2 linked regions of the Homo sapiens genome follow. The protein of the gene in region 2 purifies or fractionates together with the protein of the main gene of each other region. This does not show direct contact. Each region holds a gene or a part of one and is shown on either strand. Other genes may lie near its edges. The genes, in order: ATP1A2 and ARHGEF16.

What was found.
Region 1: the proteins of ARHGEF16 (region 2) and ATP1A2 purify together in Homo sapiens (affinity purification with mass spectrometry; 2 studies listed by BioGRID and IntAct, with this or other methods). This does not show direct contact.

Annotation. Positions count from the first base shown.
Region 1 is NC_000001.11:160,107,455-160,123,495, reverse strand, and holds the start of ATP1A2 (sodium/potassium-transporting ATPase subunit alpha-2 precursor), read right to left. Parts: upstream 7,738-16,041; 5' UTR 7,635-7,737; coding exon 7,623-7,634; intron 2,591-7,622; coding exon 2,486-2,590; intron 2,305-2,485; coding exon 2,245-2,304; intron 284-2,244; coding exon 80-283; intron 1-79. UniProt on the Homo sapiens protein: This is the catalytic component of the active enzyme, which catalyzes the hydrolysis of ATP coupled with the exchange of sodium and potassium ions across the plasma membrane.
Region 2 is NC_000001.11:3,457,665-3,467,724, forward strand, and holds part of ARHGEF16 (rho guanine nucleotide exchange factor 16), read left to right. Parts: exon of another isoform or gene 1-1,835; coding exon of another isoform or gene 1,836-1,867; intron 1,868-5,401; coding exon of another isoform or gene 5,402-5,420; coding exon 5,421-6,008; intron 6,009-8,483; coding exon 8,484-8,529; intron 8,530-9,137; exon of another isoform or gene 9,138-9,250; intron 9,251-9,503; coding exon 9,504-9,673; exon of another isoform or gene 9,674-9,686; intron 9,687-10,060. UniProt on the Homo sapiens protein: Guanyl-nucleotide exchange factor of the RHOG GTPase stimulating the exchange of RHOG-associated GDP for GTP. May play a role in chemotactic cell migration by mediating the activation of RAC1 by EPHA2.

The sequences.
Region 1 (16,041 bases), about 160 Mb from region 2:
TGCCCACCCCCCACTGTGTTGGGGGTTCAGGGTTGGAGGACAGTCACGGGCTGTTCCCGGGTCGGGCGTGTGGGCTCACATTGTCGTTGGATGGTTCATCCTCCATGGCAGCCTGGATGCCGTAGGCCAGGAAGCAGAGGATAGCCCCAATCCACAGCAGGATGGAGAACCCCCCGAAAAGCTGACGGCAGAACTTGACCCACTCAGGGGTTGTGGGAGGTGGTGTGAGGGCGTTGGGCCCATCTCGAGCCAGAACGTCCTGAGCCCGCTGGTTGGTGAGGCCCTGAGGGAGCAAGGAGAGGCGTAGGGGCACGCATCCGGAGCCAACCCAGCCAGTCACCATGCCCATCCCTTCAGCTCCCGGGCATGGGAAGAATGCCCAGAAGGAAAGTCCCACCTGGTTGGAAGGGGTGGGGGACCATCAGGAGAGACCACATGGAGGAGGTGGCATTTGTGATGCAACTTGGAGGGCTTGAGGGCTGAGAAGGGTTTGACTGGGCTTGACCCCTAATTATATTGGATTGAGACAACACCTATGGTTAGGGCCATAACATCTCCCCTGGAGGCAGTCTGGATAAGCTCCCTGGAAAGACACCTCAACTGTTTTTTCCCCATCTCTCTTCCTTCAGATTATTTTATCAAGGATTCTAGGAGAGTCCTAGATTTTTTTTTAAGAGATGGATTCTTGCTATGTTGCCCAGGCTGGAGCGCAGTGGTGCAATTATAGCTCACTGCATCCTTGAACCCTGGGCTAAAGCAATCCTTCCACCTCAGCCTCCCAAGTAGCTGAGACTACAGGTGGGCACCTCCACACCCTGCTCAAGTCCTACATTATTGACCGTCAGTGTCACACAACTTTGGCAATCACCTGTCACTTTCCACAGAAAGCCTTGCCTGGCCCTATTCCCTCAGCCCCAGGCTGGTTCAGATGCTTCTTTCTGGTTCCCCATGGTGTTCTATACTTGATTCTAGAGCTGCACTCACCATATTGCATTGGAATCCTAGGATTGCATTTTTTCTGCTACTAGACTTTGAGCTCCTTTAAAGCAGGGACCGTTTCTTTTTTTTTTTTTTTCATTCATTCATTCATTTAATAAATGTATATCCAGTGCCAGGCACAATTGTCACTCTGCGGATGCAGAGATGGACAAGACCAACAAAGTCCCTGCCCTTGAGGAGCTTATGATCTGGAGAGGTGACACACAATAAACAAATACATATTAGTGCCAGATAGAAAAGTGTTACTAAGGAAAATAAAGTAAGGTAAAGGAATAGGGGCATAGAATTTTAGAAAGAGCAGTCAGGGAAGGCCCATAAAGGAGATATACACCCACTAAATATTTGTCTGTTTGTTTGCTTGTTTCAAGATGGAGTCTCACTCTATCGCCCAGTCTGGAGTACAGTGGTATGATCTCGGCTCACTGAAACCTCCGCCTCCTGGGTTCAAGCCATTCTCCTGCTTCAGCCTCTCGAGTAGGTGGGATTACAGGTGCCCATCACTGTGCCAAGCTAATTTTTGTATTTTTAGTGGAGATGGGGTTTTGCCATGTTGCCCAGGCTGCTCTCAAACCGCTGACCTTAAGTGATCTGCCTGCCTTGGCCTCCCAAAGTGGTAAAATTATAGGCATGAGCCACCACACCCAGCATTTTTTGATTAATGATTTTTAAACAAATTTTTAATTGAAGGGCTTAGCAATTGACTGTACCAGTTACTGTTCATGTGACCTTGGGAAGTTACTCTCCCTCTCTGAGTCTCCTTTGTTTAATAAACAGGTCTGCAATACCTATCTCAAAGGGTTGTTGTAAAGATTAGAGAAATGTATGTAACGCATCTATCACAATGTCACATATGTAGCAGGGGCCCAGCAAATCACTGTAACCACAGGAATGGGCTGTCAGCCCATGTGCATCAGCTGTCAGCTCTGTGGAAGGCTGTGTGCAACTGAAGTTGCTTGGGGTATAGGGAAGGGCCCTGCCTGGAGGCCCTCTGGGGCCTGGGTCATAGGGAGTCCTGGCTTCTAGGGTATACAGGGAGAGAGCTTTGGGCTAGGATGCAGGGGATCCAAATTCTAGTTCTGGCTGTGCCACCAACTAGCTGCATGTCCTTGGGCCAGTCCTTGTTTCTGGGCCTCAGTTTCCTCATCTGTAAAGAAGGCTGGATTACAGTTTTAAGGCTCCTGCCACCTTGATGCTGCATGGTTTTCTTGCCTCTTTTGTTCCTTCCCTAGAAGCCCCTCCACTCACCTTGGACAGGTCCACTTGGTATTTGCGGCCCAGCTCATCCAAGGACAGCTTGTGGTCATCCTGGGGAAGGGAGGGTGAGTTACTTTGGGGAGGAGGTATCTAAGATGCATATGAGGGTACTGCAGGGCACAGGGGTGAGTTGAGCAGCATGGGGGACACGGAGTTTCTCTGAGTGCAATGGGCTGCAGGGACAGCTCTCCCAGCATGGGGCCCCTCCTCCATGGCCCAGCAGTTCCCTCACCATTGCCACCTCCTTCTTCAGCTCATCCAGTTCCTTCTCCTTCTGTTTCTTCTTGCCGCCCCCATTCTCTGCCGTGGTGGCGGCAGGTGAGTACTCACGGCCAGCCTGAGGGAGGAAGGGAGAGCCAGAGAGTCAGGGAAGAGAGGGGCTGGGGCCTCCATTCCCACCACTCAGCCAGGGAGCCCAGGCAGTGGGGGTGTGTGTTCAAAAGCAGCGGCTGCCTTGGGGGAGATAGGGGGGATGGAGGGTGAGGGACCCTAGGCCCTCAGTTTGTAGACTATTGGCAGAACCAGGGGCTCCCATGTGAGTTTCAGAGAAGGGTGAGGGGCTCAGGACTGAAAAGCACCACTTGAGTGGTTTAATGCTTGGGCTTCTGCTAAGATTTTGTTTGTTGAAAGGACCCTGCTGCTAAATACAAAACAAAACAAAAATTTTGAAAACCTGTATCCTACACTATTTGGGAAAATTCTGGAAGGGAGTGGACAGGGTTTTGTGGGGGGTTGTTGAGGGAGTAGAATCACTCTGTAGGAATGTCTTAGCCCAACACCATGGCAATTTTACTTAGAGAGGGGTAGAAATACTCAGGAACTTGGGGGAGCAAGAGTCTTTGGGGAGCCAGGGGATTAGGCAGGAACGTGTCCAGAGGAGAGCCAGGTCTGGTGGTGGAATGGTAGGGATGGAAAGAGCAGGCCTGATGGACTGAGAGGAGGCAGTAGCTGGAGAGTCAGGGCATGTCCAGGAAGTGGAGACATGGGGTGTGCTGGGAGCCCTCTCCATCCTGCTGGGCAGGCCTGCCCGTTACTAGACGGGAGGCAACTCACAGGACTGGACCCCCAAAGCACAATTGGGTAACATGGGAACTGAGCCCCATTTGTCCCAAAACATAAGAAATTGTATCTGAGAGTAAATCTAAAACTACATTTTATATAGTTTTTAAGTCTAGACATTCCTGGGTCATCTGGTGAATCAGATGGCCTTTTTTTTTTTCTTGAGACAGGGTCTCACTCTGTCACCCAGGATGGAATGCAGTGTGCAATTTCAGCTCACTGCACCCTCCGCTTCTAGGGCTCAAGCAATACTCCCACCTCAGCCTCTCAAGTAGCTGGGGCCACAAGCATGCACCACCACGCTCAGCTAATTTAAAACAATTTTCTTTCTTTCTTTCTTTTTTTTTTTTTTTTTTAGATATAAGGTCTCACTATATTGCCTGGGCTCAAGTGATCCTCCCACCTTGGCCTCCCAGAATGCTGGGATTATAGGTGTGAGCCACTGCGCCTGAGCAGATGGACATTTTAATTGTAGTCTTATGAGGCTCCTGATTTCCCTTCCACTCCAGGGCCTGTGGGCTCACCACTACCAGCCTTCCAGGGTCTCACAGGGAACTTCTTGGGGACAGGGTGGGAAATCTTTCCTTCTAAGAGGAGGCCCTCTTGGGGTGATAGAATAGGATAGAGGCTGAGGAAGGCCTGGGTAGCCATGAAAAGTTCCCAAAAAGGTACCTTCTTACTTCCTCTTCTGCCCCAGTCTTCTCTCCTCCCACTTCCCTCAGGAAATAGAGTCCTTGTCATAGAGGGGCTGCTCAGTTTCCACCTGGTGCCTATTTCTCCACTGGATTCTGCAAAGTCTGCACTAGGCTTTCAGGAATTAGTTTTCCCACACTATGATGTTAACTTTTGTTTCCCATAAAGAGTGGATACCTGGGTAGGGTCCACAGCCAAGGTGTTTGCTTTTTTTTTTTTTTTTTTTTTTTTTTTGCAGGATAATGCAGTTTTGGGGGTTTTGTTTGCATTTTAAAAAATATACTTTTTTTGGAGCAATTTTCTGGTTCACAGCAAAATTGAGTGGGAAGTAGAGAAAGTTCTCATATATCTCCTGCCCCCACACATGCACAGCCTCACCCACTATCAACACCCTGCATCAGAGTGTTACATTTGCTGCAATCATGAACCTGCATTGATACATCTTTATCGTCCAAAGCCCATAGTTTAAGTTTGAGTTCACTCTTGGTGTACATTCTATGGGTTTGGGCAAATGTATACTGACGTGTATCCGCCATTGTGGTATCATATGGAATAGCTTCACTGCCCTAAGACTTTTGTGCTCCAGGGTAATGCCTTTTTTACTTATCAGAGTCAGGAGCAATCCCAGAAGTATGGCAGCTGCCTTGTTCATAAGAGGTCGCCAATTCAGCATCTTGAGAGGTAGAAGTCTGACCAGTACAATCAGAAGCAAGGGTAGGGGTGGGGGATGCAAGGAGAAGTCAACACTGTTGTTCCCAAGATACCAATGATTTAAAAAGATATGAGCTTTTGGAGGCTGTGTTGCTCAGAAGTGCTCTTCTCAGAAAAGGTGACCAGTAAAATCGTGGGTTTGTCTCCACCTGAAGCATCTATGAATCTGGTATAATTTTGGCCTCCTAAAGGCAGATCTTCTTGGGGAGACCGAGCAGCCCAATGGAAGGGGTGGGGAAAGGCTTGTGAGTGGTTCTGCCTCTGCCTTTCTCAGGTGACCTAAGAGGATTCATTTAATTGAGTGGATTGAAATGCTTTACATTCACTAACTGTCTGTGGTGGGACAGAGCTGAGAAAAGGAAGAAATGCAATCAAGGGAACAGAGGCAAGAGATCAGGCTGGCTGAGCTTCAGTGTGACCCTCAGGAACTTCAGGGACAGAAGGGGGCCCAGGCATACACAGAGGAGCAGGGCTGGGTCTGTGGGCAGAAGAGCAGGGTGCAGAGGAATTTCTGTATATTCAGATGTGAAATAAATTTCATAAAAATTGGAATAAAATGCATGCTTTTTAAAAACTTGCTGGTCCATGCACTTTGGCATGCTGGATTGTGGCTGAGCTAAGCAGCTCCACGCAGTGCCTCCTTTTCCCAAGCTCCCGCCCTGCTCTCCAGCAGGCTTAGAGCTTGAGACACACTGCCCCTTCCCCCTCCTCCTGTCCTGGCAAAGATCTCAGGCTCTGCAGCCAGGAGCCTGCAGAGATTTGGGGCCAGCGGCTGCCCAGGCAAGAAAGAAAGAGAGGAAGCAAGGACCCCCCCAACCTCCCTCCACTCCTCCCTCCCCCAACCACAAGTCCCCCTCTCTGGGTCTTGAATGCTGAAGGAGAACAGAGAGTCCTTTTTGAGAAAGCCAGAGGCTGGGACAGAGTGGGGGCAGCTGGGAATCCGCCAACGCTCCCCCCATCTCAGCCTCTCCGTGGTAGCTGGAGCAGGCTGGGCTCCCTCCCACCAGTGTCGTCCCTTCCCCCAACTCCCACGCTGCCCTTCACAGCCACTGGGTAATGGGGGGACAGTGAAGCCTGCCTCTGCAGTGGAGATGCAGGGGAGAAGGGATTGGAGGAAAAATCATCCCTAGAACAGGTTGTGGGTGTCAGATGCCTTCCCTCTTCAGGGGTCGTTGGTAGGTTGAACTCTAAGCTCCAGGCCCTAAATACCCCCACCTCACCCAGCCTCTTAGTTTAAACAGCCCAGATCTGCTCCTCATCTTGCTATTGCATCACCCACAGCAACTTAGGATGGTGATTAAGGGGAGTTTGGGGGTGCTAGGGGAAAAAGACAGACTGGAAAAGTCAAGGTCTCATCACTTCCCAAGCAAGACCTCCTGAGCTGGGTCTACCTTGCTCTAAGATGGAGCAGGGTAGGGGGCTACCTCCCCTCCTTCTCTCTTCACTTGGATGGGGGAAATGGAGGGCTTATCTGATCCTTTAACCCCTGCCTCTTCTCAGAGGTCCTGCATCTCAGCTAGGGATGCCCTTTCCATGGGGAGCCAGAGATGTCAAGATGCAGCTGAAGGTCCCAAGACAGTATATCTTCCTGCAGCTATGACCTCTTCCTCCGTGAAGCCCATACCTCACAGCTCCTAAGGGCAGGCTCACAGACTCTCAAGCACCCCCACACAGTGACATTTATGCTTGTGCAGGCTTGAAGGCTTGTACATTTACAAATTTGCCTGCTGAGACACAAACACAGGTACTCATCCATGAGTAACTGCAGGACTCCCCGCCTATGGAGAACACGTGGTCAAGGACACACACTCACACACACACAGACACAGACACACAGATACATGCATGCACTCCAATTCTATTTATGGCTCCAACCCTAGCTCAGGAACCCTGGTGTCCAGGCTCAGGATTTCCCAGCTGCTCAACTAGGTGCAATAACATGTCCTTGCCTGACTCCTCCTGGGCCCAGAAACACCCACGGCTCCCCCTAGGCACAGTCTTCCTCATACCCTCCTGTTCCGCAGCATGCCCTTTCCCTCTGTGTCCTCTTTTGCCAGTATTCCACAAAAGGAAAGCAGCCAGGCACAGCATGTAAAAGGATTGGGCCACTCTTCTCCATATGGGAATTTCATTTCCAAGAATTCAAAGCCCTCTCCCTGCCCGCCCCATTGTTGTTAATCTTCCTCTTGGTGTAGCCATTGCTGCAGAATGCCATGGACGGGTGGACTGGGGGGGGGGTCACCTGTCACCAGCCTCTGGGAAAGTCCTCAAAGCCCATGGCTTGGAACCCACGGACAATGCTGCTCGGGACATCCGGAGGGGTGCTGGGGTGGGGGCTGGGTCATCATTCTTCCTCCCCACACCCCGCCCAGCTGTCCTTGGCACTCAGGGCCCCTGGAGCTGGTGTCCGGAACTACTTGGTGACTCTGGGAGCCGGATGCTCTACTGCCCCTCTCTAACCTCAAAATGGACCCCCAGCCTCTCAGGCTAGGACTCCCAGAGGAATGGATATTTTCAGGAGGTGGCAAAGACAGGAGGACTCACAGTGCCAAACATCCTTTCAGCTGGGAGGCCGGGAGATGCAGTGAGAGGAGGGACTGCTGCAGGGAAGGACTAGAGATGTGGGAGTGGGGTGGAGGGAGAGATGGAGGGGGCATGTGTGGTGGGCTGTGGGTCTAACTGTGGGCAGGGGGCTGGGGCGTGCAGAGGAGAGGAGAGCACTAGGGTATGTGACCGCCGTGGGATCTGTACACACATTGGTAGTTTGGAGACTGTTAGTTTCAAGTTCCAAGTATCCCACTCAGCTCCTCTCTCCCGCTCCTTCCACATCCCATTCCCACTTCATCCTTCCTCAGCAGCCTCCCTCACCCTCTAGACTGCGACCCCTGCTCTTTAGGGATACTCACCCCACGGCCCATCTTGGGGCAGAGTGGCTGAGGGACCTTAGCGGGAGAGGTCACCAGGAGGATCCCAAGCCCACACCAGCCCGTCTGGGACAGTCGGAGACCCTGGCAGACAGAGAAAGCCAAAGCAACAGGGTAGCTTTAAATAGGTCCTTCTCCCCCTCTCCCCCGCCTTCCCCTCCTCCGAAAGAAACGTTTGTTGAAACAGGATCCCTGAGGACTCCTCCCCTCCCGCCCCTTTAGCCACTGGCCCTAGACAGCCCGTTTGTCCCACGGCATGCCCCCCCTTGGCTCCTCTCAACCCCCTCTGGCCTGTGGCACTCACAACTGAGAGAGGCTGCAAGGGAAGGGGGCCTGGGTCCCAGGTTGGGGGGATATGCCCCCTTGGATCTGGCTGAAGGGGAGCAGTTGACTCAGAATCCCAGGATGACAGAGACCATGTGGCCTAACTCTTCTTTTCCAAGTGGGTAAACTGAGGCTCAGAGAGATTAAACAATTTGAATTGATAAGACAGAGCCAGAACTCAGGTCTCCCGAGTCTACATCCAATCTCCCAGAGAAAGAAAGAAACATAGACCACTCTGTTCCTTCTATTATAGAGGTTGCAGGGACACTGAAGCCCAGAAATAGAATTTGAACCGAAGGCTGACCTCTGCACTTGAGGCACCTGGAAGGGGGGCCCAGGAGGAGTCAAAGGTGGCTCGGGAGGCAGCGGGAAGTTTGGAGATGGAGGCAAGAGGGTGTCCCCAAACCCTGCCAGATGTAACCTCTCCAAAGTTTTGAAGGAGAATCAAGACTCTGGTAGGGAGGGGCAGGCCAGGGCTAGAGGGGAACGGGTGGGACTCCTAGCAGGCACCTGATGACATCTCTGGGTTTTGTTTACCCCTCGTTTACCGTTTCATTGCTGTTGAAGAGCTCTAGACTGAATCTATGCCTGAGTAGAGTAGTGATAGGGAGAAGTCAAAAGAGAGGAAAATACAGAACCTCTAAGATGTGTGTGAAGGTCAATATCATAGCAAATATCAGACATGTGAACGGGAAAGGAGAGCGACTGTTTCCTTCTTCCAGTGGGGAAGGGGAAGCAAAGCTGCAGCATGCAGGACTGAGGCTGGAGAACAGGCCTCTCTGCAGTGAAGTGGGGGAGATTGGAAATGTCTGAGGAGTGAGGATGCCCATCAGAGTCAGGAGCAATCCCAGAAATGCCTAAGGCTTTGCCTGGGGCTGGAAAGGGTATCTTTAACCTTATACCAGCTAGAAACTGGGGACAACGAGATGACCCAGGACAGGACCAGCTGGTCTAGGGGTGTTGTTGCTGCTCATTTGATGAGTAATCCAAAGGATGAGGGGCACAGAGAGGAAGGGGAACCCAGAAGGGGCAGAGAGAAAAGAAAAAATTCTGCTCCCGCCTTCTACTGGGAACAGTCAGAGGACAGGATTCCCCTGGAGTACCCCTGTTTCTCTGGGCACAGAGATGGAGTGAGGGGAAGCCAGCGGAGTGGGGCAGGTCTAAGTGTCCTGAGTGCAAAGAAAGCAGAGAGGAAGGGAGGGAGGGAAGGGGGGCTTTGGCCAGAGGCCTAAGGTGCCTGCTGGCTGGGCTGGGTCCATCTCTGGCCCCAGAGGGAACTCCCTGCAGAGGGATTATCAGCCTCTCCTCTAGCAAATCCACTCTCAGGGCACAAGGCTAACATCTGAATTCCCTAAATAACTGGCCCCCTCCGGGCCTGCAGTTGAGATTTTCCATTACAGGGACCTGGTAGGTCACATCTCACTTCCACGCTCCTTCCCTCTCTGGGTTACAGTCAGAAAGGGTGGGTAGGATGGGGCCAACAGGGCCTTCTCATGGCCCCCCTCTCCGAGCTCAGATTTGGTCTTGGGAGAGAATGGGCAGAGGGAGGAAACAATGAAGGGAACAGATACCAGTTCAGCCCCTGTGTGTTAAGGAGAGAGTGAGAGGGGAGTAGCGGGAAAGCCTGTGGTTAGACACCAGGAGAGACTGTCTAAAGCAAAGTCACTCCAGAGTGGCCCCGAGGCAGCTAGGGAGATCAACATTGGGGCAGGCTTGCCTGGGGGCTGTGGGAACAACATGATAAATTGGGGTTTAGGAAGCGCCTGTTCCGTAGGTTCCTGGGTTGGAATTCCTGGGTAATCTTCTGCCCAGCCCTCTCCAGAACACAACCTGAGATAGGAGAGAAAACGTCAGTCCCCGAATCTGAAGGTGTGCAAACCTCAAGCACTCTAACAGTTTTCATCCCACCCCTCACCCCTGCTGGCACCTCCCAGTACTGCCCAGTCCTTCCAAAGGCCCTGGCTCTGGTCCCTGTGGCCAAACTCAATACCGGAAAGGATGTGCCCTTCCTCTGCCCCTACAGCCTGCTGGGGCTCCCTGCCATGCCCTGCATTTGGGCGAGAGCACAGCCCGAGGGGCGCTGCTGCTCACATATTTAGGGCTCAGAGAAATCAAAGAGTGGGCAGGACACCCAGGGCCTATACTTCCACCGTGCATCACTGACCACCCTCCTTGCCCAGTGAGAGCTGAGGCTCTGGAGTGGTCTACCTCCTTCTTGTCCACCATGAACCTCAGCCTCCAGGATATTAACAGGTGTAGACACCTGATCGTTTGATCTGGAGTGCCTGGGTTGGGCTACTGTTTCTTCAGACACAGTCAGCAGTACCAGTTTGGATCAAGGCCCTTGGAGTAAGAGGAGCAAAGGAGAGAGAAAGAAAGACTTGAAAGCAGGAGGATGGAAGGCCAAGATGCCTGGGCTGGGGAGTGGGCTGAGAAAGTCACAGATCAGGAGGGGGATCCACCAAGGGCAAAGTGGGGATGGAGTGGTCCTGAATCAAATATTTGGTTGGTAAGAAGTGTGTGTGTGTGTGTGTGTGTGTGTGTGTGTGTGTGTGTGTGACAGAGAGAGAGAGAGAGAGAGAGAGAGACCAAGACAGTTGGAGAGAGACAGGAGTGTGCATGTGCCTGTGTACAGATGTGTGCTAGTTAATGACTGGGAGGACCTGAGCGTTGGGTCCTGTGTGAGGTATGAGACGGAGTGGTGGTACCAAACCACATTCCAAAGGAGGAGCTCCTCAGGGGAGAGGACAACACTCATTCGGATGTGTGGCCAATCTGCTATGAATCGGTTGTCTGTATGCAAGCATGAGTACAGAGGTGCGTGTGAGTCCGTGAGTGCGCATCGCTTCTCGGCCTTTTGGCTAAGATCAAGTGTGGAGTCCGTGTGTGCGTGCATGTGGGCCATTGGGGAGCTCATGTGAAGCCGGGTGTGGGTGTACGTGAGAGTCCATGGGAGAATGTGTGTGTGCACAGGGAGGGGGTGGGGACGCTGCTCAGCTGCAGATGGGCTTTCAAGGTCTCCAAGAAACAGTTTTGTTTCCTAAGTGACTGGCCTCCTGGGGCCTCCAGCCCAGACTTGAAGGTTGTTTCAAGATCATGAAAGAGAGAGAGGAGGAGGGAGAGTGGGAGGGAAGGAAGAGCTGGGAGGCTCTATCACCCCCATCGTCCCTCCTCCCGCCCCGGCACCCCACTTCTCTCCCCCAGTCCTGATTTGGGCCCAGCTCTCCAGCCCTGCTCCTCTGGTCCTCCTCTCGGCTGCCAACCCCCCTCTGGGCATCTCTCCTTCTTCTCCTTCTTCCATTCCCTCTAACTCTCCTTTCTTTTTTTCTTTAGGGCCTGTGGTCTTGTCACTGCTATCAGGCTTCTGAGGTCTTCTGGGAGTGTGGGTGGAGTTTTTCTGCTTCCAAAGGGAGCCCACCTTGGGGGATGAGATGAGGGGAGCCGGGAAGGCCTGGACTGGCCATGACAAGTGTCCAAGAAAGATGACTTCTCACTCTCCCTGCCTCTCCAGCCCTCTGTCCTCCCACTCCCTCAGGTTATAGTGACCTGTTAAAAGGTTGGGATCAGCCAGGTGGGGTGGCTTATGCCTGTAATCCCAGCACTTTAGGAGGCCGAGGTGGGCGGATCATGAAGTCAGGAGTTTGAGACCATCCTGGCCAACATGGTGAAACCCCGTCTCTACTAAAAATATAAAAATTAGCTGGGAGTGGTGGCACATGCCTGTAATCCCAGCTACTCGGGGGGCTGAGGCAGAAGAATCGCTTGAACCAGGGAGTCGGAGGTTGTAGTGAGCCGAGATCGTGCCAGTGCACTCCAGCCTGGCGACAGAGCGAGACTCCGTCTCAAAAATAAATAAATAAATAAATAAATAAATAAATAAATAAATAAATAAAAAGGTTGGGCTCAGAGCCCCAGAGTGGCTGTCCAAGTCCTGCTGCTGTGTCAGTTTCCTCACTGGACTACAAGGATGGTGTTGAATTTTCTCCCCATCTCTCCTTTAACATCTGCTCCTCCGTTTTCTTTTTGGTCTTTCTTTTATTTTTATCTTATTTTTTTTCTTTATCTGTTAAACCATTCCTTCAACATGGTCTTTCTTTTCAGTCTACTCAAAGTAGATTCTAAAAATCTCTGCTGGCTGGGCGCGGTGGCTCATGCCTGTTTTCCCAGCACTTTGGGAGGCTGAGGTGGGTAGATCACCTGAGTCCATGAGTTCAAGACCAGCCTGGGCAACATGGTGAAACCTGTCTCTAATAAAAATACGAAAAAATTAGCTGAGCGTGGTGGCATGCACCTGTAGTCTTAGCTACTCATAAGGCTGAAGTGGGAGAATCACCTGAGCCCAGGGAGGTTGAGAGGCTGCAGTGAGCCAAGATTGCACCACTGTACTCCAGCCTGGGCAATCGAAGTGAGACCCTGTCTCAAAAACAACAACAACAACAACAACAACAAACAAAAAACAATAAACAGACAAAAAAAAACAATTCTTCTTCTCTCTCCCTTAAAAAAAAAGGACAGATTCTCACTCTGTCACCCAGGCTGGAGTACAGCGGCATGATCAACTGCAGCCTCGACCTCCTGGGCTCAAGCCGTCATCCTGCCTCAGCCTCCAGAGTTGTGCATCCATTGGCATGCGCCACCACACCCAGCTGGTTCTGTCATTTTAATCTCTCCCCAGAGTATTTTTATTATCCTCTTTATTGTTAAAACCACACTGTATAGAATTTAGAAAATAGGATGTAAAAGCACCCAGAAGCATTTTCCCCAGCCTCTGCCTGTGCTGCATTCCCACCTCCTTTCGTTCTTACTTCTCTCTGGATTCAGATAGCTCCATGTTGTGTTCTGCCTGTGCCTTCTTCACGTGGAAGTCCCAAGGGAGAAAAAGGAAAGGACCCATGGTGTAGCCCAGGGAACCCATGTCAACCCTTCCCAGGAGCATGAAGGCCTGGGCTATTCTGTGCCTCTGCTTTCCCTCCTGTCCTCTCACAGTCCCCACCGTGGTCCAATGCAATGGACTCTTGCCTGAAAGTCAAGTCAGCTGAGGCTAGTCCTGCTGAAGCCACTAACCACCTGTGTGATGTTGGACAAGAGGCTTCTCTACTCTGACCTTGGCATCTTCATCTGAATGACAAGGAACGGGATGAGAAAATCTGTGAGTAATTCCAGCACTTTGGGAGGCACGAGGTCAGGAGATTGAGACCATCCTGGCTAATGCGTGAAACTCCATCTCTACTAAAAATACACATGCACACAAAATTAGCTGGGCGTGGTGGCAGACACCTGTAGTCCCAGCTACTCAGGAGGCTGAGGCAGGAGAATGGCTTGATCCTGGGAGGTGCAGGTTGCAGTGAGCTGAGGTTGCGCCACTGCACTCCAGCCTGGGTGACAGAGCGAGACTCTGTCTCAAAAAAAGAAAAAAAAAAGAAAATCTCTGAGGTCCCTCTCCAGTTCTGATGATCCCCAAATTCCAGGCTATTTCTGCCTCAGCGCACAGCTCAGCTCAGGTAAACAGCAGGAGTTACCTGCAGGTTGTACCTGTGTGAGAACCATCAGTTGGAGACCTGGGTTCAGAAGGAGATCCAAGAGGGTAGGTTGTCCTGTCTTGTTTGTGAGCATGGAGGCAGGTGCTCCTATTTTGTTTATTATTATGACTCATAGAAATGAATCGAATCCCTTTAACTCTTGGCATGGAAAAAAGGAAGGGCTCCGGTTTGAGCAAAGGCTACCCTGGGTTCTTACAGAGCACCGCTGTGAGAGGTGGGACAGGGTCTGGGTATCTTTGGGGGAGGAAGGCAGGGCTGGTGGTGAGACTGGGAAAACCTGACATCTCTTGGCTGGTATCTGATCAGCAAATACCAGGGGAGTCTGTTTGCAAAGATTCTTTGGGCTGGGAAAAGTGTGTTGAGGATATGGGGAGGACGGGGTTAATGGGCCCTGCTGAGTGTGAGGAGCAAGGGTCACAGCTGGACCCTCCAGGGTTCCTGTTAGCCTTTGATTCCATCCGGGCAGGGAGGGAGAGGTCCCCCAGCCCCCTGAGGCAGGTTTGCTTTGGCCAGAGATCTGAACCAACCACTGGCCCAGAGCACCCCGCCTCCCCGCTCCCCCTATCAAGAGGCAGCTGGCTTGGCCCCCAGCCTCCTTCTTCCCACCTCCCTCTTCCCTTACCAGGCCCCCTCCACTTGGCCCAGGATACAGCTCTGTTTATCTGCCTGTCCCCTGTGGCATTCTGTATGCTCAGAGAGTTCAGGATGCCCTGCAAACATCTGGCACACAGGGCCACTGCCTCCCTCCCACATAGCAGCCTCTCCTCGGAATTTCAGGGAGCTTGGCCTCCTCTGTGCCTCAGTGTCTCTGAAAGTCCAAGATTCTTTTACTTTTGTGCTCCCCTCTGGATGTTCTCACCACTGCCCCCTTGAGGAATGTGAGTGCCCTCTGGGTGACTTAATAAACAGAACATGTGCTTTTTGATGTTATTGCATCATTTAGACATTCAACAAACATTTGTTGAGCACGTACTTTATGCTATATTCTGTGCAAGGTACTAGAAAGACAGTTACAATCAAGGCAAACAAGATCCCCACCCTCATTGTCTTTTCTCTCAGAATCTCATGCCATTTAGTCACAAAATCCCCCCATCCATTCTTGACCTTGTCCTCCCAAGCTCATAGTCCTTAGGGACTCCCCACTTCCATTTCCTCAAACTTTCCCCACTTCTTTACCTCTACTTTTGCTGAGTGAGGTTGAGTGGGCCTGGCTCTGCCTCCTGCCTAGATGATTCTCCCAACCCAATGACGCGGGAGCAAAGGCTGCGCAATGGCGTATTGGAAATCGTATTGGAAATCACTCTGGATTAGGCTAGAGGGAGGGCAGAGGCTTTCAGTGTGGGACTTGCTCTACAGTTAACCAGCTGTGCGCACTTGAATAAGTCCTTTACCTCTCGTCAATAAAGTAGTGGGTGGAGGGTTGGACTAGCTAAGGATTCTCACCCTTAGCTTCATGTTAACATCCCATGCCCAGGCCTCATCTTCAGGTACCATGTTTTTAATTGATCTAAGGTGGGGCTTAGGCATCAGTGTTTTGTTTTGTTTTTCGAGACTGAGTCTCACTCTGTCGCCCAGGCTGCAGTGCAATGGCACAATCTCGGCTCACTGCAACTTCCACCTCCCAGGTTCAGGCGATTCTCCTGCCTCAGCCTCCTGAGTAGCTGGGATAACAGGCATGCACCACCACACCTGGCTAATTTTTGTATTTTTAGTAAAGACGGGGTTTCACCACGTTGGCCAGGCTGGTCTCGAACTCCTGACCTCGTGATCCACGCACTTTGGCCTCCCAAAGTGCCGGGCTTACAGGTGTGAGCCACTGCGCCCAGCCGCATCGGTATTTTTTTTAACTCCCCAGATGAATCAACAGGCAGATTTGAGAACCACTGAACTATATTGTCCCTAAGATCTGTAGCTCATCATAGCTAACGGTTAGTGAGCACTTATTGTAGATTGCATGTTTGTGTCTCCCCAGAATTTACAGATTGAACCTCTGATGTGATGGTATTAGGAGGTGGGGCACTTGGGAGATAATTAGGTCATGAGGGTGGGATTAGTGCTCTTTTAAGAGGAGGCATGAGAGAGCTTTCTTCTTCTCTCTGCTGGCCATCATGTGGGGTACACAGCAAGAAGGTGGCTATCTGCAAACCAGGAAGGGACCCCTCACCAGATACTGGATCTGCCAGCACCTGGATCTTGGACTTCCCAGTCTCCAGAACTAATGAAGACAGCATGTAGTACTTAACTTAGTCCTCACAACTCTATTTTACAGATGGGAAAACTGAGGCACATAGATCCTCAGCTTACCCAAGTAGGGGGGCTGCGGTTCAAACCTGGTTAGTTTGTTTCCAGAGCCTGCACATTTAACTTCCATGCTGTAAGGACCCACTGAAGCTTCTCCTTTGGGTTCTTGTCCCCAGGAGTAAATGACCAGAACTGTCTGGATGCAGTGGTGACAGTGAGGAGTGCTCCAGAAGATAAAGGGGAAGAAAAAGTGCCAACTCTTGTGCATCTGTGTTGAGCCAGGTATTGCTGGCTGC
Region 2 (10,060 bases):
GGAACGGACAGGCTGGGCAGGGGGCCCTGAGACTGGCCAGCGACCACAGATTCCACCTGCTTGGACCGGCCAGGCGGGGGCCCCTGAGACTGCCCAGAGACCATGGATTCCGCCTGCTCGCCTCTGCTGCACGCCTCCTCCTGGCAAGTCCCTCATGCCCCATAACTATATGTGTTGGGGATACCAGGTGGGGTATTTAGTGGTAAAGAGAAAAGAGAGAGTTCTGGGCCCCAGGGCTCAGCCATGGGAGGTCCTTTCCAGCCCACCCTGAGGAGAAGCAGCAGGAAGTCGCCCAAAAAGTGGCACAGATGGGCCCAGAACCTCTATGGGGCTGCCCTGGCCCAGCCTCTGCTCATTTTGAGCCAAGTCCCCTTGCAAGTTGGTTCTTGGCACGGAACACCAGGGCCTCTCTGGGAAGACACAGAATCAAGGTACTAGGAGACCAGGGCAGAGCACGTGCCGAGGCAGGCATTTGCTCTTCAGTGTGGAATCTGAGCCCGACTGTGGGGACACGAACAGGAAACTGTCCCTGCCCCGCAAGGGCTCACAGACATGGGGAGACAGGACAGCCAGCCAGCCAGCCTGCGGCTCCCTCTGCCCTGTGCATGCCCTGTGCTAAGCCCCCACTCAGCAAGTCAGGGCTGCCTTTGCTGGGGAGCAGATCTGCCACTGGCCCACGTGGCTGCTGCAGGAAATCTGACCTCTCTCTGTGGCACTGCAGCCGGGACAGCATGGCCAGCTGCTGAAAGGAGTCTGCCCTCTCAGCCCCTCCCCTTCACTGGCTCCACCAGGAGCCGACCAGCATCTCAGTGAGGAAATGGAAAGAGGCCACTGTAGAAACCAGCCGGCCTGCAGGACAGGCTTCAGGATATGGACCTGGCATGGGGCTGGGGGTCCCATTGGGCCCTCCCGGTCAGACACCTGTGCTCAGGGTGTGTGCACTTGGACCTCCCGCCATCATAAGGCCTGTCTCCTCAATAGAAGCAGAAACAATCAACCACCAGCAGCAGATGTTTGAGGAAAGCCCTGTGCCTGAGAGACAGAGGCCAGCAGAGGCGGAGACAGGAGGAAGTATGTGGCAGGGGCGCAGCTCCAGCAGCCAGCGACAGAAAGAAAGAAACTCGCTCCAAAGAAAATGTAATCCTTCCTCTCTAAGACAATAGAAGATGTTACACCCATAAAGCAAGAGCAGGATGCCAGGAATGAAGAGCAGAGGGCTCTTTGAGGATAATGAAAATGATAAGACCAGGGGCCAATAAGAAGTCCAAGTAGAGAAAACCTCACACAGAGAACAAAGTAGGGGAGGAAAGGTAAGGAATTAGGAGAAAACACCAGAGCTTAATACTCATTAGTGGGTATTCCAAAAAGAGAAAACAGAGTGGAAGAAATAATATGAAAATCTGCGCAGCCCTAGACAAGAGTGACCGCCTGGCAGGGTTCCACCCAGTGCCTGGCTCAGTGGACTAACATGGACCCTACGGGGGCACATCAGCACGACAATCAGAGCTCCCAGGCTGGCTCAGTGAACGAACACGGACCCTACCGAGGCACATCAGCAAGACAGCCAGAGCTCCCAGGCTCCAGCAGGTGCGCCAGACCCTCAGTGGGGCCAGGGAGAACCACACACCGGTTGTGATCCGAGAAAGAGATCGGGACATTGGGGCCCTTCCCCAGCAACTCTGACAACAAGGGAAGGGCGCTGCCCGACTCTGGGAGAAAACCATCTACAGTGGGAATGCTCATCTCCTCACCAGTCAGGGGAGAGGAAGAAACAAGACATTTTCAGGCAGTCCAAAAGATGGCTCCCATGTGGCTTCCTGGGACAGTGCCTGGGGATGTCCTTCAGGGCAATGAGGGCCGGGAGCAGGTGAGAGGGGCCCCGGAAGCAGCAGAGGAGGTCCTGGGATCCGCCCAGGGTGAGGCCCAGAGCACTGGGCCCTCTGGAGAGGGAGGACGGGGGGTGTCTGGGAAAAACACTGAGCTGGCCTGCCAGACATATAGAATATATTCTCAAGAAGCACATGGCAGAGACGCCAGAACACTCAGGGAAAAATTAACTGGGGAAACCAGGCTGGTCAAATGAGAGAAAATCATTAACAGGACGTGGACAAGGCCCTGCCCTGGGGCTCAGCGCCTTCTGCCGGCACAGGCATCGTGTGATGGGGCCAGCCGTGATGGAGTCCTCGTCCAACAGGCAGGGAGGGGGTAGGAATGCCCATAGGTGGGGGTCACTGAGAGCAGGCTGTGCCTTTTTCTGGGAAAAGCTGAGGAGCCCAGAGCAGTGGCCTCCGGGGATCAGGGCAGTGTGGAAGAGGGGACGCTGGGTTTTCATGCTAAGTCTTTGGTGCTCGTTGACTTTTGAAACGGTGTCTGTGTCTTCATAGTTCTTTAGAAAAACTGAAAAACAGAAGGCAACGGGTGCCTGCCAGGGCCACAGCTCCCGAGAGCCGGCTCCTGGGGGGCTCTGGACTGCCCACACCCCTCAGGCTCTCTGTTAGGCCTGTGGGTGCGGCTGCCTCGCTGGGAGCGGAGGTCACACCCAGCAATGGCTCAGGCTCTGGCTCGCCTGACAGGTTCCCGTTTGGGCGCCTTCTGGCAGTGGAGCAGACTTTGATCTCTCCTGGGACAGCTGCTGCCAGCCAGGGCCAGGACACCGTCTCAGAGGACGTGGTCAGGGACAGTCAGGCCTGGGCAGTCTGGCCCCATTAGGAAGGAGGAAGGCCTCTATGAGAGTCAGAAGGTTGAGACAGTGCAGGCTGGGGTCTCTGTATTTGGGGGCTGTGGGGTCTTGGGGACATTTGTTTGGTGGGAGATGGGGCACAGTGATGTTGTGGGCATGTCAACCCACATCAAATGCCCCCCAGGTAAAGTCATCACATTTAGAATAAAAGGACCGCAGGGCCGTAGACCGCCTACGCTGGCCACCCACTGGAGTGTGCTCTGCTTGGCGTGTAGACAGAAGCCTAAAAGAAATGGATTTCTCGGCCGGGCCTGGGTAAAACGCAGACACCCTACTGTGAGCGGGTGATCCTGGGATGGTGCAGACCAGCGTCACTCTGGTCAGTGTCATGGACACCAGCCCCGGGGGAGGCCTGTTGTGTCTGCCGCTGTCCTTGACCAGTGATTTGGAATGTCCTGAGGAATGTACCCTCCCGGCCAGCGTGGGGGCCGTCCCTCCCTGGGGCCTGGGAGGCTCAGCCGCACGTGCCTTCCTGGGATGGTTTTAGCAGAGAATTTGTGTCCTGGGAGAGTTTGGTGGCTCCCGGGGCTGAGCAGGGACAGAGGGGTGTCCCAGGTGCCCTGTGGACACTCCAAAGGTGCTAATCCAGGTCAGTTGTGTGGCTGACTGTAGGCAACCTCCCTGCAGGAAGTGACTTTGGGCGAGTGACTCAGCCTTGTTTTCCCATCAGAAAAATCAGTTTCCACCCGCAAGAGACTCCGGTCATTTTCATGTGTGTGACGTTCTGGGTGTATAGGAGGCATACTGAGTGGTGGTGGTTATTGTTTTTATCTTTATTTTTTAAAAGGGAAAGAATGAAAGCAGCGAGTTTTCTCCATGTCGTTACCTTTTGAACCTACGAAGCTCCCTGAGCATAGGGAGCATGAGCTTGTCTGTGATTCGGCAAGGCCTTGGTCACTGCGGCGCAGACGCAGGCCTCACACCGGCCAGGCCTGTTACACGCTTTGCACGCTTTACACTTCCCACCGTACCTTCAGGAGGTGGGCCTTGCTCTTATCATGCCCATTTTGCAGATTTTGAAACTGAGGCACGGAGAGGCAGCGTCACTTGCTCATTGACCACATGCCTGGGTCAGGGCTGCTCCCTGACACGTGTGGGGAGCCCCTGAGCAGCAGAGGGGAAAGCTGGGAGGCCTGAGAGACCAGACCCTCGGAATCCATTGCTCAGTGGCCTGAGGGTTGCAAGTGCCCAGGGGGGTTGCAAGCAGCCCGGGGCGTGAAAGCTCACTGTGGGCCTGACCGCTGTGGCCGAGCAATGCGCCGTCACTCAGGAGGTGATGTGTAGCCACAACAGCCCCGCAAAGTGCCTGGAAACAGACCTCTGGGCCCGGCTCCTGGAGGCCGTGTCGGCTGGGGGCTCTGCACATCTCGGTCACACGGGGTCCAGGCCATTGAGGCTCTGCCTGGCCACGCGTGCCTATAGTCATGGCAGCCAGGGAAGACGCAGAGGCAGGTCGAGAGCTGGCTCTCCACATTCCTACCTGGCAGGCACGTATGTCCCAAAGCCAGTCTCAGGACTGTGCCATTCCCAAGGGGCAGAAGGGCAGCCCTGCCTCGGGTCTGGAAGGAGGAAAGTGAGAAATGGGAAGCAGTAGTGTCAGGGGCAGGGTGCCAGCCCCGGACCATGAAGGGAACAGTGGGGTAGAGATGGGCTCGGGGGCACGCGCTGCCAGGAGGGGCGGGCAGGAGTGTGGCGGGGGCGGGGCAGCCCACGGGGTGTGGGGATCGGGCTACAGAGATGTCTACAGGGCAGCTCCCGCTCTCTGCTGGGGGGTGTACGTGGGACTGTGGGCTGCCACCCCTGCCACCACCACACCTGCCCAGTGGCCAGGTGTCATACTGGACTCTCGGGCTGGTGACTGGTGGGGCTCCTGAGACCAGAATTGTCAGCTTTATGCCCAGTTCAGAAACGTGGAAAAATGCAAGCGTGTTGCCTGGTGTGTGGAAAGGTTCCATGGACAGTCCGCGACAGTCATATCACTGTGTGGCTAAGAGAGGGGAATCACACAGGCCTGGGCTCGGGCCGGGAGCATGTGGGCAAATGCACCTGCCCTCCCCCCAACCCAGCAGAGCCTGGCTCAGGTGCCTGGAAGACCCCAATGAGGCAGAGGCTGTGGTCACTGCCGCTGTGGCTGATGCCGGCCTCAGGAAGCCCCCCAGTGCAACGCCATGACCCTTGCGTTCACCACGAGGAAGTGGTTCCAGGAGGCTGCATGGCTGCCAGGTGTGAGCCAGGATTCCAGGCCAGGTCTTCAGGGCTCCAGGGCCATGCACCTGAGCTGCCCCACCTGCCTCCAGGCTCAGGAATGTGTCCTCAGTGCGTGCTGCCCATCAGAGGAAGCAGTGTGGCCTCCCAACCTCCAAGGTCCAGCCTACCCCCATAGGCTGTGCCCACCTGGTCCCTTGGAGCTCGGAGAACCAGCGCCTGCCCAGTCCCATCCTGTGTCCAGCCTCCGGCCTCAGACATGGCTGGCTCCCAGTGGTCAGGACTGGCTGTGCCACTGATCCACTGTGCTCCTGGCTGCGTCGCTGTCCTTGCCTGCTGTGTCCTGGGAGCTGTACTGGAGCCCCGGCCAGACATATGCAAAGGGGTAGGGGGGTGGACACCCGCGGGGGCAGGGGAGAGCAGCCTCACGAGACCTCACTTCTGCCCTTCCCCCAGGACCCCACAGCCGCCCAGCATGGCCCAGCGGCACTCAGACAGCTCCTTGGAGGAGAAGCTCCTGGGACACCGCTTCCACTCGGAGCTCCGGCTCGATGCCGGGGGGAACCCAGCCTCCGGGCTCCCAATGGTCCGTGGCTCCCCGCGTGTTAGAGACGATGCCGCCTTCCAGCCCCAGGTCCCGGCACCCCCACAGCCTCGGCCCCCGGGGCACGAGGAGCCATGGCCCATCGTCCTGAGCACAGAGAGCCCGGCGGCCCTCAAGCTGGGCACCCAACAGCTGATCCCTAAGAGCCTGGCTGTGGCCAGCAAGGCAAAGACCCCAGCCCGCCACCAGAGCTTCGGGGCGGCTGTACTTAGCAGGGAGGCCGCCCGGCGGGACCCTAAGCTCCTCCCAGCCCCCAGCTTCTCCCTGGATGACATGGACGTGGACAAGGACCCCGGGGGCATGCTGAGGCGGAACCTGCGGAACCAATCCTACCGGGCGGCCATGAAGGGCCTGGGGAAGCCAGGTGGCCAGGGAGATGCCATCCAGCTAAGCCCTAAGCTCCAGGCTCTGGCTGAGGAACCCAGCCAGCCTCATACTCGGAGCCCGGCCAAAAACAAGGTAGGGGCCTGCTCGTGTGGACCGTGGGGAGGGGGCTGCTAGGCAGAGGGGCGGCCTGGCCGTCTCCACCACCGTCATCTTCTGCATCATGGCAGCTGCCGTTAGTAAGCACCTGCTGCATGAGGGCTCTCGACTGGTTTATTCCAGTTCAGCCCAGTCTGTGAGTGTGAAGATCCCACCTTACAGATGAGGCAGCAGAGGCTCGGAAAGGTCGAGGGTTCTACCGAGGCCCCCAGACTCTGGTGTCCCCGCTCCCAGCCTTGGTGGAGGGCAGATCCCTGGAAGGGCCCAGTCCCTGTTTCCGAGCTCTGGACAGGAGCCGGCCTGCCTGGATGATAGGGTTCAGGGTGACCTGGCTGCAGTGACTGGCCTGGGCTCCATCTGCCCCGGCAGCTCCAGACAGGGACTCAGGCGGGAGGGACTGAAGCGGGGCAGCTGTGCGGTGGCCTGGGGCTTAGGAGAAGTCTGCACATTCCCTCTGTACACAGAGCCCTGCTTCCCTGCCTGCTGGTGGTGGCTCTAGGTCTGGGGCATGGTGGCGGCAGACCCTTTGCTGGGCAGGGTGTAGCCTGACTGCATGTGTCACTAGGGCCCAGGGGACAGAGCGTCCAGCTGGGGCTCCTGGGCCCAGTGTCCCTCATCCTCGGAGTCACCATCCCCTGCGGCTGGGGGCCAGGCCTTCATTTCAGGCAGCCCTGGAGCTGGAAGCCACGTTCAGGGAGAGTTGCGTGGTACCTGGACACCCACCCAGCCAGGACTGCGACTCTGGCCACCCTGCTTGGTCTCTTTAGCTGGTGGGTCTGGGCTCAGGCAGGGCTGGGGTAGGGGAGGCGAGCTGCCCTGGAACCGCCCATCAGGAGGCCCTGGCAGCCCGAGCACCCTCAAGAATGCAGAGCAGATGCAGGGCTGGCCCCAGGGGCGTCCTTCTTGTTGGGCGCCTTGCTCAGACGTGTTGGAAAACAGGCCCCAAGCATATGGGCTGCCTCAGTGAAGGACGAGGGCGGGGGCAGGTGCTGTGTGACCCAGATGAGTTCCTGAACCTTCCTGAGCCTTGGCTTCCCCATGTGGAAGCAAAGATCACAGCCGCCCTCTGGGCATCCTCTGGGCAGTGTCCACGGAAGGTGTGTGCCAGAGCGTCTTCTTCACTGGTTGCCGTCCCAGCTGCCTCCTCAGGCCCAGCTCCTGCCCAGACTGGGAGTGGCAGTGCCAGCCTCAGGAGACGCCAAGACCACCTGTCAGAATGTCCCATGGGCGTCCACTGCAGGCCGATGGTGGCTGAGGTGGGGTCCCCCATGTCCCCAGCACCAGCCACTGTCCTCGGTCACAGCTCTCTCTTGTGCCTACCTGAGACGCCCAGGACTCAGAAATGCCTCAGCACCTCTGCCGCAGGCCCCTGCACCCCAGCAGCTGGAAGGGCCCCAGCACTCTCTACACCCACCAGGCCCAGGCCCATGGGGCTCCGTTCATTCATTCACTGTTTATTTCATGCAGTCAGCAGACACTTCTGGGCACCTGCCACATGCTTGGTGCTGGGGTTCCAAAGTGAGCCCACGGGCATGGGCCTGGTTCTCAGAGGGCCTCCAGCGCAGGGAGAATGCCGAGGGCTGGGCTGAGGGCAGCTCGGGGGTGCTGGGAGCACAGAGGAGGGGGCTCCCCATGGCCTCGGGTCAGGGTAGGGTCCCGGAGGAAGGAGGGTTAGCGCAGAGGCAGACAGGAGGAGAGGACGGAGTCGGGGTGGGGGAGGCAACAGCTCCAGCCAGACCTGGAGGCCGAAGGGGGGCTGGGGGAGTCCTTGAGGTGGGGTGCGGGGCACGGGGCTGAGGGTGCCAGGCCAGGTACAGCTGGGAGCACCACACACTCCCAACCAGTAAGGGGAGTTTACAGGCCCCAACTCGTTCCGAGAAATCAGCCCCTTTCCTTCCGGGAACCAGCATACCTGTGGCGTCAGGAAAGTGTGGTGTCCCAGCCGAGGAGGGTGGGCTCCGAGTCGGGCACCTGAGCGTGGGGGCTTCCCAGGAGCCCAGCCCTCCCGTCACTTCTGCCATCCCGGCCTCCTGCTGGGGCCCCCAGACCCATGCTTGGGGCTGGACACTGGCCAATCCTTGCTCGTCTGTCCCACCAGGTCCTAGTCCCCAGGGGCCTGTGTCCTGCCCCACTGTCCCTTCACAGCCCTCTCCCAACCTCACCTGCCCTGCCACGGGCCTGCTCGAAACTCTTCTGAGCGTCCCCTCACGATGAGTTCAACCCTTCCTCCTCCTCCAAGCAGCCCTCAGTCACGTGTCCTGCCTGCTCTGAGCCCTCCTCCCACCTCTCTTGGCCTCTGCTTGGCGGCCGTGAGGCCCTGTGGAGCTGACATCTATTGGGCACAGCTTCGCATGTGGAGCCGAGAGGTCTCTGGGGTCCCAGGGCAGAATCGCCGTGGGCAACACCTGCCCCGGCTGACAGCTGCGGTTTCTGTGTCTCTCTTTTGTGCAGAAGACGCTGGGGAGGAAACGTGGGCACAAGGGTTCCTTCAAGGACGGTGAGTGTGGCTTCGGGAGGCACCGCGGGCTGGGCTCCAGTTGAAACTGGTCTCACTGGGGCACCCTGGGGTTCGGGTGGGCCTCAGTTTGGTGTCTCGGGGTCACCAAAGCTGCTTGACAGGGTCCTTCCAGAGGCTGAGGTCCCAGTGGCTGGTCTGTTCATGTAGCCCTGATGAGTCTAGAAAGGTCTAGAAAGTTCCCTTGGACTCTATTCTGTGTGTTCTGAAGGGCAGGGTACAGACAGAGCCCCCAGTCTTGCCCTGAACACCCCATGTGTGTGCTGGGCCCAGCCTACAGTGGCCGTGTTGGGGGACCAAGGCCAGATCAGAGGGCACCGGCCCCACACCGCGGGCTCTGCCCGGACTCTTCGAGGCTGAAGGGGAGCCATGTGTTGGGGCCTCCAGCATGGGTGGCGGTGGTGCACACTCAGCCTGCTCGGGGGAGATGAGAACATCCCACAGGGAGGTTGACATAGGGAGGTGCCTGCTACCTGGGTCCAAATGCCCGGGGGTGTAAAGAGATTAGAGGCAATGAAGCCCGGGGAGGGCTAAGGCCTCGAGTGCCCAGCTCCAGGCCTGAGGCTCCAAGACACAATGGCCCCTTCCAGCCCCCAGAAGCTTTGTGGACAGGCATGGGCCCAGGAGGGGGTACCCAGGTCTCCTCTACGGAAATCCCTGGGAAGTGTCCCCAGGAGGCAGCAGCGATGCCCCACGTCTCAGGGTAAGGCTGGTTGGGGGCTGCTGTGAGGGTTTGGAGGCACCCTGAGCCGGGACCAGCCCATTTCAGGTGGGACTTGTGGCATAGGAGAGGTCTTGGGACTGGTGCCCAGCCTGGGGCAGTCCCCTCCCAAAGCCTCCCTCTCCCACACAGCCGTGAGAGCCTGTGGGCCTAGAGGACTCAGCTGGCGGGTTGCAGGGAGGCGCAGCCTTTTGCAATCCCCCAGGGCCACAGGTTACCCTCCTTCTCTCTCTAGACCCCCAGCTCTACCAGGAGATCCAGGAGCGGGGCCTGAACACCAGCCAGGAGTCTGATGACGACATCCTCGATGAGTCCTCCAGCCCCGAGGGAACCCAGAAGGTGGACGCCACCATTGTGGTCAAGAGCTACCGGCCCGCCCAGGTCACCTGGAGCCAGCTCCCAGAGGTAGCGCCGGAGGGTGGGTGAGGCTGCCCCACAGAGGCAGGGAGAAGCCACAGTCCCCCTGCTGTTCCTTCCCCAAGCCCAGGCGGCTGGTCCCCAGCAGCAGCCCAGTCCTCCCAGGGAGGGTGGGCAGCCTTCCCAGAAGCCCCTCGGCTGTGGGTGGCAGACCTGGGGGTCTCCCTCCTGTGCCCTCAGAGTCACCCTGCCCATGCAGGGCCCTGCCGTCGTGCGTGCGAGGGCCAGCCCTGCTCAGACTACCCTTCAGGGAGCTGCGGGCGCCAGGAGTCCCTTCCCAGGGCCCCCGCCCCAGGAGAGGGCTGAATGATCTGCGTAGGGAGACAGCTGGGATGGGAGGGGCCGGGACTTGGAGCTGGGGCCAGGGCCAAGACA